Regions from separate parts of the Homo sapiens genome. Here region 2 is linked to region 1. The links come from fine-mapping of genetic effects on gene expression. A gene starts in region 1. The other region holds a variant in brackets. All regions are shown on one strand. Distances are between the middles of the regions.

Region 1 (8,323 bases):
TTAGCTCCCCCTCCTGCATGTCCAGACTCGTGAGCCCAGAGCTGGAGGAGCTGAGGACACTCGAGTCTCGGAGGCAGGAAGCGTGGAAAAGTTGCACCGACCGGGGCTGGAGGCCCAACCTCACAGTGCAGCCTGGGACAAGCGCCCAAACCTCTCTGAGCCCGTTTCTTTGTAAAATGGGGTAATAATATCACCTACTTAACAGGATTTAGGGAGATCAGTGCACCAAACATTCAGCATATCTAGTGCCTGGCATGTACAAGGGTCTCCGTAAATACAAGTGGGCTCGTGTTGTTGTTATTATAATGGCCCCCTCCTCACTCCTTCTCTGTCGGCGGAGCCCACCAGCCACGTCAAGGAGTTCGTCATTGGCTCCAAGACTGTCAGAGCTGGGAGGGCCCTCAGGTTATAGGTGAGGAAACTGAGGCCCAGAGACCAGAAGGGCCATGCCTAGGGTCACTCGTGACAGTGGGTTTATGTGTGCTCCCCAAAAAGATATGTTCCAGTCCTAGTCCTGGTGCCTGGAACGTGACCTCGTTCAGAAAAAGGGGTTTTGCAGATGTAATCAAATTAAGATGTGGCCATAATGGATTTGGGTGCGCCCTATAAATCCAGTGACCCATGCCCATTTAGAAAGGAGGGGGAAGGCTGGGCACGGTGGCTCACGCCTATAATCCCAGCACTTTGGGAGACAGAGGCGGGCGGATGACAAGGTCAAGAGATCGAGACCATCCTGGCCAACATGGTGAAACCCTGTCTCTACTAAAAATACAAAAAAAAATTAGCTGAGGGTGGTGGCACACGCGCACCACTGCACTCCAGCCTGGCGACAGTGCGAGACTCTGTCTCAAAACACAAAACAAAAAAGAAAAAGAAAAAGAAGGGAGCGGGGGATTTGGACAGTGGCATAGACAGCAGGAAGAAGGCTGTGTGGAGACAGAGGAAGGTGGACACTGGGGTGCTGCTGTCCCAAGCCGAGGTACCCCTGTGGTCACCAGGAGTGGGAGAGGCAAGAAAGGGACCTTCTCTGGAGTCTTTGGAGGGAGCGTGGCCCTGCCCACACCTTGAATTTGACCTTTCCGCCTCCAGAACTGTAAAGGAGTGAATTTCTGTTGTTTTAAGCCATCAGGTCTGCAGCACCTTGTTATAGCAGCCCTAGGGCAAAAGCAGGGCTCAGACGAAGTCAGCCCACCCAGCTCCACCGGGACCCCACGGGACTGCACCTCCCGCAGTTACTCACCATGCGCCCTTGGGTAAGTCAGGCCTCCGTCTCCTGAGGGTTGAGGGCCAAAGGCCATCACATAGGTGAGGAGACCGAGGCCTGACTCAACACGGGCATGGTGTCACGTGATCAAATGTGTTGTGTGATCAAACGAGAGAGGGGCTGTGAAGACCTGGGTCGCCTGAGAGCGGCTGTACCGTTCAGGGCCTCGCGATCCATTGAGGGGGACCCTTCAAGCAGGGGCAGACACTTCCAAACGCTCAGAGTCATGCCCAGGCAGGTGCACCCAGGGCAAGCACCCCATCTGGATGCAAATCGCTGTCTGGTAAGAATCTGGGCCCTTCTGATTTTTACAAGGCAAGTTGGAAAATCTCCATTTCCCTGGGAGCAAAATGTCCCGATTTCCCTCAGGAAGATACTTCTTTCCCTCAGCAAGAATCAAGGCAGACATGTGTGGGGAGCCGTGGGCCCTCGTAGTCTGCAGTTGCTTCTGGGACGCCCAAGCTAGTGTTGCCTTAAAGGGTCTTGAACCCAGCTGCCCACCCCCACCCCTCCTTCCTACTCCTTTAGGTAATGGAAGAGGAAGCAAACTGAGGCACTCTGAATGCCTGGCGTCGGAGGTGGTTTTCCGAGAGCCTGTCATTGGATCTGACAACAGCTTTAACAACCAGAGCCAGCAGTTACCAGCCGCTGCTGCCACACCCTCAACCTTGCCGGTTGAGGCTCGTTGCTTTGGGTTTTCTTGTACAGTTTGTTTTGCACATGGTAGAGGGCCTTACTCTGCCCATTTAAAAATGTTTCATCTGGCTGGGCGTGGTGGGCTCACGTCTGTAAGCCCAGTACTTTGGGAGGCTGAGGCGGGTGGATCACCTGAGGTCAGGAGTTCGAGAATAGCCTGGCCAACATGGTGAAACCCCGTCTCTACTAAAAATACAAAAATTAGCCTGGCGTGGTAGCGCATGCCTGTAATTCCAGCTACCTGGTAGGCTTGAACCCAGGGGTTGGAGGTTGCAGTGAGCCGAGATCCTGCCACTGCACTCCAGCTTAGGCAACAGAGTGAGACTCCGTCTGAAAAATAATAATAATAATAATAATAAATAAATAAATATAAAAATGTTTACTCTAAGACCCATCGGATTGTCTTGAAATGCGCCTTTAAATGTTTTTTTCCTGGGCTGGGCAACTCTCGCTGTCTGGCAGGTTCCAGGGAGAGGGGCCCAACTTGGCAGAGCAAGGCCCAGGAGGCCAACGCTGTGATGTGGACTGCTGGGGCGGGAAACCCCTCTTCATCATCAGCTTCCCAGAAGCAAGAAGGCATCAAGGCCCCCCCACGCAGACTCCAGGTGGGAGAGGAGGCTCAAATGCATGGCCCAAGGGGAGGTGCCTCGACTCCAGAAAAGTGGTTTTTCCAAGGCAAGCTGGAAATGTCCATTTCCATGTGAGCAGAATTTCCCGATTTCACCCAGGGAGAAATTTCTTTCCTACAGCGAGAACCAAGGCAGAAACGTGCTGGCAGCTGTGGACTCTGCGGCCTGGAGCTGCTTCTAGGAAGCCCAAGCTGGTGTTGCCCTAAAGGGGCTTAAACCCGGCTGCCCACTCCGCCCCTTCTTCCTGAACCAGAGGGTTTTGGCTCCTTCCCACTGAATTCCACTTCCACCAACAATTACAGTGCGCTGGCTCCAGCATCTCAGGTGAGTGTGATTATACTTTTTTTTTTTCTTTTTGAGACAGAGTTTCGTTCTTATTGCCCAGGCTGGAGTGTGATGGTGCGATCTCCACTCACTGCAACCTCCGCCTCCCGGGTTCAAGCAATTCTCCTGCCTCAGCCTCCCAAGTAGCTGGGATTACAGGCGCCTGCCACCACGCCCGGGTAATTTTTGTATTTTTAGTAGAGACAGGGTTTCATCATATTGGCCAGGCCGGTCTGCAGCTTCGAACTTCTGACCTCAGGTGATCCACCTGCCTCGGCCTCTCAAAGTGCTGGGGATTCTACCCATTTTACAGATGAGGAAATCCAAGTTCAGAGACAGGCGGTAGCACACTCCTGTGTTCCCAGCTTCTCGGGAGGCTGAGGCGGGAGGATCACCTGAGCCCAGGGGTTCAAAGCTGCAGTGAGTCATGATCACTACACTACACTCCAGCCTGGGAGACAGAGTGAGACCCTGTCTCTAAAAAATACACAAGATTCGGGCTGGGCACCGTGGCTCATGCCTGTAATCCCAGCACTTTGGGAGGCCGAGGTGGGAGGATCACGAGGTCAGGAGTTCGAGACCAGCCTGGCCAATATGGTGAAACCCTGTCTCTACTAAAAATACAAGAATAAGCTGGGCGTGGTGGCCAGCGCCTGTAATCCCAGCTACTCGGGAGGCTGAGGCAGGAGAATCGCTTGAACCCGGGAGGCGGAGGTTGCAGTGAGCCGAGATCGTGCCATTGCACTCCAGCCTGGGCAACAGAGCGAGACTACGTCCCCCAAAAAAACAAAAACAACAACAACAAAAAACAAGATTCACTGAGTCCATCAAGGCAGAGGTGGAGAGGGCTAGCAGCCGTCCTGGCCAGGTGCTCCCCGGGACAGAGAATAAGAAACTGAGGAGGGGACGTGCGAGTACCCTGGTCCTCATCATTCCAGTCAGCGGGCCGGGTGGTGACAGAGGTGGCCCAGCCCCTCTTCAGGGAAGGCGAGGGCCAGCCCGAACCGGAAGGGGCAGTGTCTGATGACCACAGCTCTCAGGGGCGCCCAGGGCCAGTGGGGCAGCGGCAGGGCCGAGAGCACGACCGGCGGAACTCGGACGGCGCCCAGCGGTCGCGGGCGGGATCGCAGGGCGAAGCCGAGCCGGGCCGGGCCCTGGCAGGAAGGGGCGGACCCGCCTGAGTCTCGGATCTGGCTTGGCTCGATCCTCCACTCTCCCACTCCGCTGGGGCCGCCCACTGGACATCGCCCGAGTCGGCCTGGCGGTCGTGCCCCAGGACGCGCCGAGGTCCTCCGAGCCCGCAGGGGGCGCTGTCGCCATATGGCCCACCCTGAGTCGGCGCGGGCAGGAAGTACGAGGGTCACTTCCGGCGGGGGCGCGGCTTGGACTGAGGAGCGGACCCGGCCGGGCGCAGGGGCTGGACTGGCGGAGCAGGTGGGGTCCGCGGCCGCCGGAGCGTTCCGGTCGGCGTCTGGGCATCTCGGCCTCGGCAGAAAGCGCGACGGCCCTGCTGCGCGGGGCCCGCGGCGATGCCGTTCCTGCACGGCTTCCGGAGGATCATCTTCGAGTACCAGCCGCTGGTGGATGCGATTCTGGGCTCCCTGGGGATCCAGGACCCCGAGCGGCAGGAGTCTCTGGACCGGTAACTCACCCCCTCCCGTGAGCTGGCCGAGGCCGCTCCGACCCCGCAGCGTCCCACTTTATCACCACAAGCCGGGCGGGGTGGATGCGTCCCCCTTGACAGAGGAAGGGACGGGCGGAAGCCGGGGTTGCGTGGCTCGGAGTGCGCGCTGCCCCGCGCGGATCCCACTCCTGCCCCTTGCATGGCGGAGACGAAGGGCGGGGAGGGCCCGAGGGCGGAGGCCCGCGGGTTGTCGCAGGGCCTGCGCCTCAGCCCCACCCTGTCGCCTGCCTGTCCTGTGCCACCCCCCGGCGTGGCAGAGGAGCAGGGTGGAATCCGTGAGGCCTCAGATGTTACCCCAGAGCAGTGTGAAGGTGGGCTTTTGTAGCAGAGTTTGCGTTTTTATAGACAAGAGCTGGTCTGTCGTGGACCTGCAGGAAAGGGGTCGGGAGCGAATCTGCATTCACTGCCCATGGTACTAGGCACCTGGGGTCCATCAGTGGCTCAGCAAAACCCCCGCCTTCTTGGCGCATGTGCTCCAGAGGAGAGACTGACAAGTAATTGTACGGCGGCACGCGAGGTGGAAGGGAGGGGAGAGCAGAAGGAAGGGGCTCGGCTCAGGTGTTGAGGGGGTTGTCAGTTGGTATTTCCAACACGTGGTAATGATGAGTCTCGCCATCCAGGGACTCTGGTGGAAACGTAGGCTTTCTTCATCAATATCAGCTGAAGGTCTCAATGTGAGGGGAGGGAGGAGGCTGTGTTGCTGTCCTGGCTGCAGGTGTTGCCGGGGCTGGGGTCCTGCGGGTTTGAGGATGGAAGGGCTTTCTGAGGAAGAAGCATCAAAGTCGGGCTTGGGCTCTTGGCCTCCAGGCTGGTGGTCCCTTCAGTCCCAGCAGCCCAGGTGTGTGAGGCTTTGTACCTAAGTCTGCGACCGGACTCTGGGCAACGCGGGAGGAGAGCGCAGACAGACCCAGCCCATTCTCCGCAAATCCCAGTCTGCTCCCGTATTAAGAGATGCAGCGTGGCCCTCTCTCTACTTCAGAGCTTCCCCCAAGCCCCTGTGACCCACAGAGCCAGGGCCCTGCTTGCTGATGATGATAGCAGGACTAAAGCCCACCAACCCACAGGCTGCGCGGTCACCCGGTCCCACAGCTGTGCCTACCCTCAGCCTCTCTCCTGTCCCAGGCCCAGTTATGTCGCCAGCGAGGAGAGCCGAATCCTTGTTCTCACTGAGCTGCTGGAGAGGAAAGCCCACTCTCCCTTTTACCAGGAAGGCGTGAGCAACGCCCTGCTCAAGATGGCTGAGCTGGGGCTGACGCGGGCGGCCGACGTTCTCTTGCGGCATGGGGCCAATCTCAACTTTGAAGGTCAGCGAGAGCCCCGGGGGTGGGCAGGTGGCTTAAACGCGGCCCGACGCTGGGTGGGCGCCCATGTCCCCAGCCTTGGCTTCTACCATCCTCTGAGGAGTGACTTCCCCCCCTTTATTTCCTGGGTGGCTGCAACTAAGGAAACTCCCATTGGGTGGCCTCCCACCCCCTGCGGGTTTTCACATGGCTCTTCCCACCTCTGTTCCAAGAGCGAGTGTTGCTGCTTCTACCATGTGATTGATTAGCAAACTTTCCCCAGCTCCCAGATTAATCCCCACTTCCATTAATGCAAAAATGCGGCTGCTGGCACTGTGCCCAGAGCTAAGGGAAGGTAATTTTCTGCTACTTACTCTGAGCCAATTTGTTTTTTTTTTTCTCATGCCGTAGGGAGAGGGGAAAACAGGCTGCATTAGGCATAAATCACCACAGGACACCCTGGCTCCTGGCTCCTGAGTGCCAGGGATGGAGATGGAGCCGAGCTCCTTTCTCTGTGTTTTTCAGCCCAGGGAGGGCAGGGTTAGTCGGCAGACAGGCAGGGCTGCCTTGTGACCTAATAGGGGCCTGAGACAGCCAGGCACGTCTCCTTTCCCCATCCGAAGACGGGCTTGGAGTCTGCTGGGCTCCTGGAGGGTCAAGGAGCTGAGACGGGAGGGCCGGTTCTGAAGCCAGTGACTTGGAGACCAGCTTGGAGAACCTGGCTGTTACCACCAGGCCTACAAAGCAGAGCCGCCAGAGCTGCTGTGTAGCGCGGCCTCCCAGCCATTCTGAGAGGGTGCGCCCCGTTTTATGGTCCCTTCTTACAGAAGAGGAAACTAAAGCCCCCAACAGCTTCAGTAGCGTGCCCACTAGAACACCCCGAGGGCCCTCTAGTATCTGGTGAGGACAGCTCTGTCCTAACCCTTGATGGTGACAGGAGGCTGGGCCTGTGCTTCTGGACACTTTAGGTGGGAGTTTGGGGCTGGGCTCTGGGTCCGGGGGCCCCATAAGAATGCGGACAGATAGGACCCACATGAGCTGTGTCTGCACCTTCAGACCCAGTCACCTACTACACGGCCTTGCACATCGCCGTCCTGCGGAACCAGCCGGACATGGTGGAGCTGCTGGTGCATCACGGGGCCGACGTTAATCGGAGGGACCGGGTAAGTGCCAGGTCCAGCTTGCTTTGAAGCAGGGTTGGGCAGGGGCCTGAGCAGCTTCCCAAGCCAACCTGGCTGTGCTTCCTTGGCTCAGATCCACGAGAGTAGCCCCTTGGACCTGGCCAGCGAGGAGCCTGAGCGCCTGCCCTGCCTGCAGCGCCTCCTGGACCTTGGAGCTGATGTCAATGCCGCTGACAAGCATGGTGGGTGCCTCCTGCAGGAAAGCAGGACAGCTGGGCCCCCAGGCACCTTGTGGGGGACACCCAGGGTGCCCCAGGACAACAGCTAGGTGGGCAGACTGGATGCTGGCCCTGGCTGGTGGCACAGCATGGCTGGGCACACAGGGATTCTGCTGACTTGCTGAGCTCAGAGGCTTCAGAGAGGCAGTGCAGTCATTGTCCCTGTGCTGGCCCTCAAGGGCCTTCTATAGGAAGAAATAGGGCATGTGTGCACTTAGTTTCCAAGAAACAATGGCTTCCCATTGGGAGAGGCCCAGCCAACATCTCAGGTAGCATCTTGGGGTCCAGAAAAATCCTACCTTTCCTGGCCTTTCCGCTCCCACTTCTCTGGGTGGAAAGGGAATGGCCAGAAGCCTGTCACCCTCAGCCCTCACCTGAGCTGAGAGTTGTCTCTGAAAGTTCATCTTCTGATCCTCTGAGTGTCTGGATTTCTGCCACCTCCTCTGGGTTGCCCTGACCTGGGCTTCCTGGCCTCCTGCTCCTCCTTGCTCTCCCTCCCTCCCTAGGAAAAACTGCTCTGCTCCATGCTCTGGCCAGCAGCGACGGGGTGCAGATCCACAATACTGAGAACATTCGTCTCTTACTGGAAGGAGGTGAGGCTGGCGCGCTCCTAGGCCTCGTCCTCTCACCCGCCCCTTCGATGTGTGCTGTTGCTTTGCCAGGGTTGAAGGCCTTCTCCCAGCATCTCTTGTTCTATGGCTCTTCTAGGGGCAGACGTCAAGGCCACCACCAAAGATGGGGACACAGTGTTCACCTGCATCATCTTCCTGCTTGGTGAGACCGTGGGAGGGGACAAAGAGGAGGCCCAGATGATCAACCGCTTCTGCTTCCAAGTCACACGGCTGCTGCTGGCACACGGGGCCGACCCCAGCGAGTGCCCAGCCCACGAGTCCCTCACCCACATCTGCCTGAAGAGCTTTAAACTGCACTTCCCTCTCCTGCGCTTCCTCCTGGAGTCCGGAGCCGCCTACAACTGCTCCCTGCACGGTGCGTCCTGCTGGTCTGGCTTTCACATCATCTTTGAGAGGCTCTGTTCCCACCCAGGCT
Region 2 (8,323 bases), 23 kb after region 1:
CCTGGGTTCACGCCATTCTCCTGCCTCAGCCTCCCGCGTAGCTGGGATTACAGGTACCCGTCACCACAACCAGCTAATTTTTTGTATTTTTAGTAGAGACAGGGTTTCACCGTGTTAGCCAGGATGGTCTCGATCTCCTGACCTCATGATCCACCCGCCTTGTCCTCTCAAAGTGCTGGGATTACAGGCGTGAGCCACCGTGCCCGGCTCTTTCTTTCTTTTTTTTTTTATGGAGATGGAGTCTCACTCTGTTGCCCAGGCTGGAGTGCAGTGGCGTGATCTCGGCTCACTGCAACCTCCGCCTCCCGGGTTCAAGCAATTCTCCTACCTCAGCCCCCCAAGTAGCTGGGACTACAGGCACACGCTGTCACGCCCGGCTAATTTTTTTGTATTTTAGTAGAGACGGGGTTTCACCATGTGGCCCAGGCTGATTGCGAACTCCTGAGCTCAGGCAATCCACCTGCCTCGGTCTCCCAAAGTGTTAGGATTACAGGTATGAGCCACTGGAACCTGGCCTCTTTTTTTTTTGTGAGACAGAGTCTCAAATGATCTGTGTAACGGATTAGAGTTGGAGATGTCAGCATGAGCTCATGTTTAGCTTAATATAAGTACAGATGGTTACCTATAGAAATATTTATAGATATGTGTGTGTTTCATAGTATACACACACATTTCTTTGTCAGCTGAGACTGCCTGAAAGAAATGACATCTCAATAGCAAGAAGCACACCTAGCACCCAGACCTTGGATTATTATTATTATTATTTTTGAGATGGAGTCTCGCTTTGTCACCCAGGCTGGAGTGCAGTGGCATGATCTCAGCTCACTGCAACCTCCGCCTCCCAGGGTCAAGCGATTCTCCTGTCTCAGCCTCCCAAGTAGCTGGGATTATAGGTGCACAACACCATGCATGGCAAATTTTGGTATTTTTTGTAGAGACGAGGTTTCACCATGTTGGCCAGGCTGGTATTGAACTTCTGACCTCAGGTGATCCGCCCGCCTCGGCCTCCCAAAGTGCTGGGATTACAGGCGTGAGACACCGTGCCCCGCAGGGTCTGTTCATTTCTAGGTCCATTGTATTCTGACTGCCTGGTCTTGGGGTGGAAGTTCTACTTCCAGAGCCACCCAGCCTAAGCCTCCCAGATCTGGAAAGGGTAGGCCTGGCTGCCCTGGTCAGAGTCCCAGTGCCCCAGGTGGCTGCGGCCAGGGCATCCAGGGCACAATAGCCCCACCCTTAGTCCCCAGGCCTCAGTGCCCACTGCTACTCAGATGCCCAGGGGTGAGGGGCGGATCACAATGACCCTGAAGCGGCCCAGAGGCAGCCGGGAGGGGCTGGGAGAGGCACCAGGCAGGGATGATGGGCTCTACAGCCTGCCTGTAGAGAGCTCTAAACTCACAGGACCTTCTAGGGCCCCACCCAGAAGCCCACCAGGGTGAGTGTGACACTGCCCAGGAGTCAGCTCAGAGCTGACAACAATCTGGGAGTGGGGTGTGGTTGGGAGGAAGCAGGCTTAGAAACCCCTCAGTGTCAGAGCTGGGAGTAAGACTGGGGCTCTGCCTCCCAAAGGGGGAGTTTGTTAAAAGTCTGTGTCTTGGCCAGAAGTGGGGACTCACGCCTGTGATCCCAGCACTTTGGGAGGCCAAGGCAAGTGGATCACTTGAGCCCAGGAGTTCAAGACCAGCCCGTGCAACATAAATACAAAAAAATTCTACCCCATTTCTACAAAATATACAAAAATTAGCCAACTGTGGTGGTGTGTGCCTGTAGTCCCAGCTACTCAGGAGGCTGAGGCAGGAGGATCACTTGAGCCCAAGAATTTGAGGCTGCAGTGAGCTATGATGGTGCCATTGCACTCCAGCCTGGGTGACAGCAGGACCCCGTCTTAGCAAGACCCCATCTCTTTAACAACAACAACAAGAACAACAAACTGTCTTGGCTCCAGCAGAGACGTACTGAATCAGAATGGGGGCTGGGGGTAAGTCATCTGTATTTTCAACAGGCTCCCCACCCAGGGGTCTCTGAGGCAGCACCAGGGCTGGGAGGCTGCTGGTCAGGTCTCTCTTCCCTCAAGCTGGTTCCAGGTTTCCTAATTCCCAGTAGAGCGCTAATGACGGTAACAGTTCCACGCTTTGAACACTGCAAGGCAGGCTAAGTGCTCTCTCTACCAGCGGTGATGCGGTGATGCCGTTTCACGGCTGCAGAGAGGCAGGTGCTGCTATTATCCCCATTCTGCAGACCAGAGCCCCCAGGGAAGGCAGAGGGAAGTTAATTGGCTTGGCCAAGGTTACAAAGCTAATAAGTGGTGGAGCTGGGACTAAATCCTAAATAATAATAACTTTGAAATACTAAGAATGGCAGCTAGTCTATGTGTAAGCTTGGCCAGCGTGCCTGGCACTGTACCGAGCTTGCTGTTCTAAGACTGGCATGTACTTGCTCATTTAAACGTCACAGCAACCCCCAAAGTTGGCTACTCTTGCTGTCACCATTTTTCAGGTGAGGAAACAGAGGCTCTGGGAGCTCTCGCCTGAAGCCACTCGCTGTCCGCCGGGCCGGTGGCGTTCACCCCGCACCGCGCTGCCCCGCCCGGGGCACTATGGCCTGGGGCTGGACTATGCCCTCCCCACCTCAGCCGGCGCCCCCCACCCACGCGCGCTGAGGGTGCGGTGAGCTGAGTGCGGGGCCAAGCATGTTCTGGCGTCGACTTCGCCCAGGGGCCCAGGACCTGGCGCCCAAGGGGCTCCCTGGCGACGGAGACTTCCGACGCAGCAGCGACCCGCGGCTGCCCAAGCTGACCCCGCCCGCGCTCCGAGCGGCTCTGGGCGCGCGGGGCTCCGGGGACTGGAGGATCCCGGGGGGCGGCGCCGCGTGGTGGCCGGAAGGGGACGCCAAGCCCGGGGTGGGCGTCGGACGCCTCCCGCCGCGCCTGCCCGCCTTGCTCACCGCGACCCGGCGGGCCGTGCGGAAGCGGGGGCTGCTGCGGTCCCTGCTGCCGCCTCCCCTGCTGTCGGCCGGCGCGTCCCGGGAATCGGCGCCCAGGCAGCCAGGGCCTGGAGAGCGCGAGCGCCCCCGGAGGCGCGTGGCCAGGGAGGACCCCGACTTCTTGGGCGCCTTCCTAGGAGAGCTCCTCCCCAGCAGGTTCCGTGAGTTCCTGCACCAGCTCCAGGAGAAGTGCGCCGAGGAGCCGGAGCCACTGAGTGAGGCCCCGCGGGGCCCGGGGGGCGGGCCCGAGTCATTTCCGGTGGGGGGTGGTCCCTTGTGTCCCCGCACCCACCACCCCACCACCCAGGCTAGAAGGATGCTAATGTTAGCTGAGTATCTCAGAGCCCTCGCAACCCGTCCTTGAGGGCTGGTCTGCCATCACCCCGAGGCCACATGACTAGAAAGGACCGTCCCCCAGCCAAGGCTCACAACTGTTTCCTCCTGGCTCCAGCATCCCCAGCACCGCAACATCAAAGGGGTGTATTAGAGCACTGCCCAGGGTCTCCGCGGTGTCCCAACTGTTCATTCCTCCCAGACCTGTGGTAAGCGTCAGTCCGCTTCTTGGTGGGGACGGGGTTGCCATCGATGTTTCCAGGGCGGGACAGCCTGGCCACTCATGCCAGATGTGGCCTGTTTGTCTTTAAGGGGCCAGTCATCGCACCTCCAGGATAGTCTTACGAAGATTTCGCTCCAGCAGACACCTATTCTGGGGCCCCTGAAGGGTGATCACTCACAATTCACCACTGTCAGAAAGGCCAACCAGTGAGTGATGGGCGGGATAAGGGTAGGGTAGTGGAGGAAAGGGGCATTTCTTTCCTTCTTTCTTTCCTCTTTCGCCCATGAATGTATTCATTTATCCACCTATCTACCCATTCATCCATCCTTACATATGGCTGTCCGTGAATCAGATCTTCTACCAACCCATTCAAGATTCATTCGCCAGTTCATCAATGAATCAACCCATCCATTAATGAGGTCTTCTACCAACACATAATTCATCCATGAATCTATTCATATATTCATTTTCCCATTCACCCATCCATCTTT[G/A]CATCCATCTCATCCATGAACCAAGTCTTCTACAACCCGTTCATGAATCTCTCCATCTATCCATCCATCCTTCTGTCCACCCATTAATCTATCATGGACCCATGACTCCATCCATCCATACATTCACTCACCCACCCACCCATGAATCAGGTGTCCTGTGGATCCATTCATCTACCTGGCCAACCAGCTAGCCAGTCATCCATCTAAAACTCCCACACTTCGGCAGGGCACGGTGGCTCACACCTGTAATCCCAGCACTTTGGGAGGCTGAGGTGGGCGGATCACGAGGTTAGGAGATTGAGACCACCCTGGATAACACGGTGAAACCCCGTCTCTACTAAAAATATACAAAAAAAAAAAAAAAAACACAAAAAATTAGCCGGGCGTGGTGGCGGGCGCCTGTAGTCCCAGCTACTCGGGAGGCTGAGGCGAGAGAATGGTGTGAACCCGGGAGGCGGAGCTTGCAGTGAGCTGAGATTGTGCCATTGCACTCCAGCCTGGGTGACAGAGTGAGACTCCATCTCAAATAAAAATGAAATAAAATAAAATAAAATAAATAAAAAATAAAACTCCCACACTTCTATCCATCCATCCATTGATCCAATGACCAACCATCTACAAATCCTTCCATCCACTTGTAAACCCAGGACACTGTCCATCGCTAATCTAGTCATAAAGCCATCCACAAACCTACATACCCATCTACATAATCATCCAGCCACGCATCTGTCCATCTACCCATACATTCATAGTTCAGTTCTATTCAGACCCTTTCATTAACTCACCCATCAGTCCATCCACCCATCAACCCACCCACCCAGTCTTCCATCATTTTACCCATCCCACCATCATTTGTCCATTTCTTACTCTAACTTTTATTAGGTTTTACTATATGTTGAATATTGGGAGAAAACTAAGGGATGGAGGTAAGAGAAGAGCCTAGGAATTGGAACCTACCTGGGCCTAGACACCATAGTTTTAACAGAGGAGGAAAAGAAGACAGAAACAGTTCCTCCAGGTTAAAATTCCTCCAGGCTTAAGCAGGGGTGAAGGGTGAATGGCACTGCCCATGAGTTTAAAGACCAGGGAGAGTAAATACATCACAAACATATCATTCTTCCTCATCTCATACCCACAGCAGACAAAACTAATGGATCATATTTCCCCACTGAGCCTCAGAACCATTCCTCACACAGTACTCTAGGTAGATACTCCTGATGGATCAGGGTAGGAACTAGAAATGGAACACATGGCCAAGCATGGTGGCTCATGCCTATAATCCCAGTGCTTTGGGAGGCTGAGGCAGGAGGATCGCTTGAGCCCAGGAGTTTGAGACCAGCCTTGGTAACATGGTGAAACCCTGTCTCTACAAAAATTACAAAAATTAGCTGGGCGTGGTGGTGCATGCCTGTGGTTCCAGCTACTCGGGAGGCTGAGGTGGGAGGATTGCTTGAGCCTGGGAGGTTGAGGCTGCAGTGAGCCAAGATCGTGCCACTGCACTCCAGCCTGGGTGACAGAGCAAGACCCTGTCTCAAAAAACAAACAAACAAACAAAAACAGTGAAACACATTTACCAACCTCAGAACGTTCAACCAATCAGGCCAAATATACACATGACTTCTCACAAGATACAAATAAATAAAAGTATGGAATTCATTCTCTCAAATGTGAGCAAAAGCAGAGACAAACACAGTTACAGACTTTCACATTCAAGAGCAAATACTTGAGCACCTTACTGTGTGTGAGATTCCCTGGTAGGCCCTGCAGGGGACACTGTGGTGCCTCAGAACAGGCTCCAGTGGCCCTCGAGTGAAGATGCTGAGATTTCAGGCAGGTGGGCAGAGCTGGGTTATGCCTTTGCCTGGCCCAGCAGCCAGCAGAGAGCAGGGGTTCCTGAGCAGACAACTGTTAGATGACTAGGTCCCAAGGCATGTAGCCAGGCACTGTCCTGACACCTCCCAACTGCTTGGCTCTTTGGAGGCTGATGAAAAGCATTCCCTCTGCATCTACACAGACATACAGATGTGGTCAGATGAATGGATGCAGACATATAACTATGTGCATACTAACGGTCAGCCATGACCTTCCTCCATAACAGAGTTATAGGTGGGTCAAGCAGGCCTTCCCGCAGCCTTGCCCTTGAGGCTGATTTTTTTTTTCTTTTTTTTTGAGACGAAGTCTCACTCCGTCCCTAGGCTGGAGTGCAGTGGCACGATCTCGGCTCACTGCAACCTCTACCTCCTGGGTTCAAGTGATTCTCAACCTCTCGAGTAACTGGAACTACAGGCGCACGCCACCGTGCCCAGCTAATTTTTTTGTATTTTTGGTAGAGACGGGGGTTTCACCATGTTGGCCAGGATGGTCTGGATCTCTTGACCTTTTGATCTGCCTGCCTCCCAAAGTGCTGGGATTACAGGCGTGAGCCACCACACCGGGTTGAGGCTGAAATTAATAACAATAAATGGAACAATGTTATCTATGAAATATACATATAACAGATACCCTTGATTAAGGCCAAACCCTGTGCCAGGCCACGTCCTACATGCCTCATGTAAATCATTTGATACTCACCAAACCCAGGAGGATGGTATTATTGTGCCTATAATTTAAAGGGAAAAAAACCTGCAGAATGGAGACTTGGAGACAGTCTACCAAAGGCCACGTGGCTGGGATGGGGCATGATTGAGATAGACAGTTACAATAAGAACAGCTCAGGCAGGCGGGCGGGCGGTGGCTCATGCCTGTGATCCCAGCACTTAGGAAGGCGAAGGGGGGTGGATCACTTGAGGTCAGGCGTTCGGGACCACCCTGGCCAATAAGGTGAAACCCCGTTTCTACTAAAAATACAAAAATTAGCCGGGCGTGGTGGCACACGCCTGTAGTCCCAGCTACTCGGGAGGCTGAGGCAGGAGAATGGCGTGAACCCGGGAGGCGGAGCTTGCAATGAGCCGAGATGGCACCACTGCACTCCAGCCTGAGCCACAGAGCGAGAATCTGTCTCAAAAACAAAACAAAAACAAAAAACAGCTCCCTGTTAGTGATGTTTCCTCTGGGTCCTGCAGACCCTGGGCTGGATGCTTGTACGGCCCATTTCCTTTCTTCACAACCCTGTAGGGTGGGCACAATGATTCCCATTTTACAGACAAGAAAACTGAGGCTCAAAAGGGTCAGGAATGAAACCCAGGACTGCATGACTCCTGGGCTGGCATTCTTATTCTCTCTGCTAAATTGCTTTACGTGCGAGGGCGCCAGCTCTGGAACCAGGATGCAGGTCTTGGCTCCATGCCTGACAGCTGCATCGCCTTGGAATAGTCTCTGTGCCTCTGTTTCCTCAACTATAAAATGAGAATGATAACAGCGTTTCATGGGGACTGTGTGCATTTGGTGGGTTGGTGTATGTGCGTGCTTGAGCCTGCCTGGCAGGTAGGAAGTGCTCCGTTAAGGCCGGCTGCTGTGATTGGCGTTATCCATTCTTCAAGACCAGTGTAGGGCACTTGTCCAGGATCTCACAGCGAGTCTGGGGCTGGTGCGTGTGTGCTGGGGTACGGTGGGGGGCTTCGAGCACAGGCCCCTCTCCCCTCTCTCAGCAGGCCCCACGGTGCACAGGTCCCCAGGCTCAAGGCTGCGCTGACCCACAACCCCTCGGGGGAAGGCTCTAGGCCCTGCAGGCAGCGTTGCCCTTTCCGGGTGCGATTCGCTGACGAGACCCTGCAGGACACAACGCTCCGCTACTGGGAGCGCAGACGCTCAGGTAAGCAGACAGGATGGGGAGCCTCGAGACTCCCGAAAGTTCTAGCCAGGAGGGCAGAGAGGCTGTAGCTCCGGGCCCCTAGAGTGAGGGACTGGCTTTGCAAAGGCCAAGAGATCAGTGATCCTGCAGAGGATGTGCCTGAACTGGCCTCCTTGGAGGATGTCAGGTTGACCTTCGAAGACCAAGTAGAGGGTCCAGAGTCCAGTGGAGGTGTTCCAACGCAGGCAGCACCTTGGACTGCTCGCTGCCAAGGGGTTCCCATATGCTGTATCTGCCCACCTTGAGACCCGTAGCCGGAGCCTCCAGAGCCCACACTTGCTCCCCTCCGCAGTCCCCACAGCCTACAGGGGCTGGAGGAGGTCCAGATGCCATTGGAAGCATCTTCCTTTGACATCCATGAAGGCAGACCTCGAAGCCTGCCTGAGGAGGTGCCCAGAAAAGCCGCGAAGCGGAAACTTTCTCTCTCCTGGAGACAGTTGGCACTGCCAGGTCCAGCAAGGAAGCTAAGAGCCACCAGACCCTGGATGTAATGGTGTCTGTTTTGCA

Alleles and levels. Positions count from the first base shown, and alleles are read on the strand shown. Sizes are in standard deviations (SD) of each study's normalised expression.
With allele A in place of G in region 2, the expression in monocytes of the gene that starts at base 4,291 in region 1 is higher (moderate effect, 0.44 SD a copy in Fairfax 2014).

Evidence for each region. PIP is the estimated chance that this variant, and not a neighbour inherited with it, causes the effect.
Region 2: its variant is fine-mapped to the expression of ASB6 in monocytes (Fairfax 2014, PIP 0.95). The same link has a PIP of 0.9 or more in B cells.

The regions. Positions count from the first base shown.
Region 1 is chr9:129,638,119-129,646,441 of GRCh38, reverse strand. ASB6 (ankyrin repeat and SOCS box containing 6) reads left to right here and starts at 4,291. Exons shown (of 6, transcript NM_017873.4): 1 at 4,291-4,555; 2 at 5,720-5,901; 3 at 6,934-7,040; 4 at 7,132-7,240; 5 at 7,783-7,869; 6 at 7,985-8,323. The coding sequence starts at 4,443. RefSeq lists a silencer at 3,925-4,524 and enhancers at 5,231-5,787, 5,788-6,345.
Region 2 is chr9:129,614,938-129,623,260 of GRCh38, reverse strand. It overlaps C9orf50 (chromosome 9 open reading frame 50), which reads left to right and starts at 2,160. Exons shown (of 7, transcript NM_199350.4): 1 at 2,160-3,194; 2 at 3,431-3,521; 3 at 3,625-3,741; 4 at 7,614-7,777. The coding sequence starts at 2,687. It also overlaps a transcript of NTMT1 not described here. RefSeq lists an enhancer at 2,048-2,698. The variant G/A (reference allele first, on the strand shown) is at 4,027.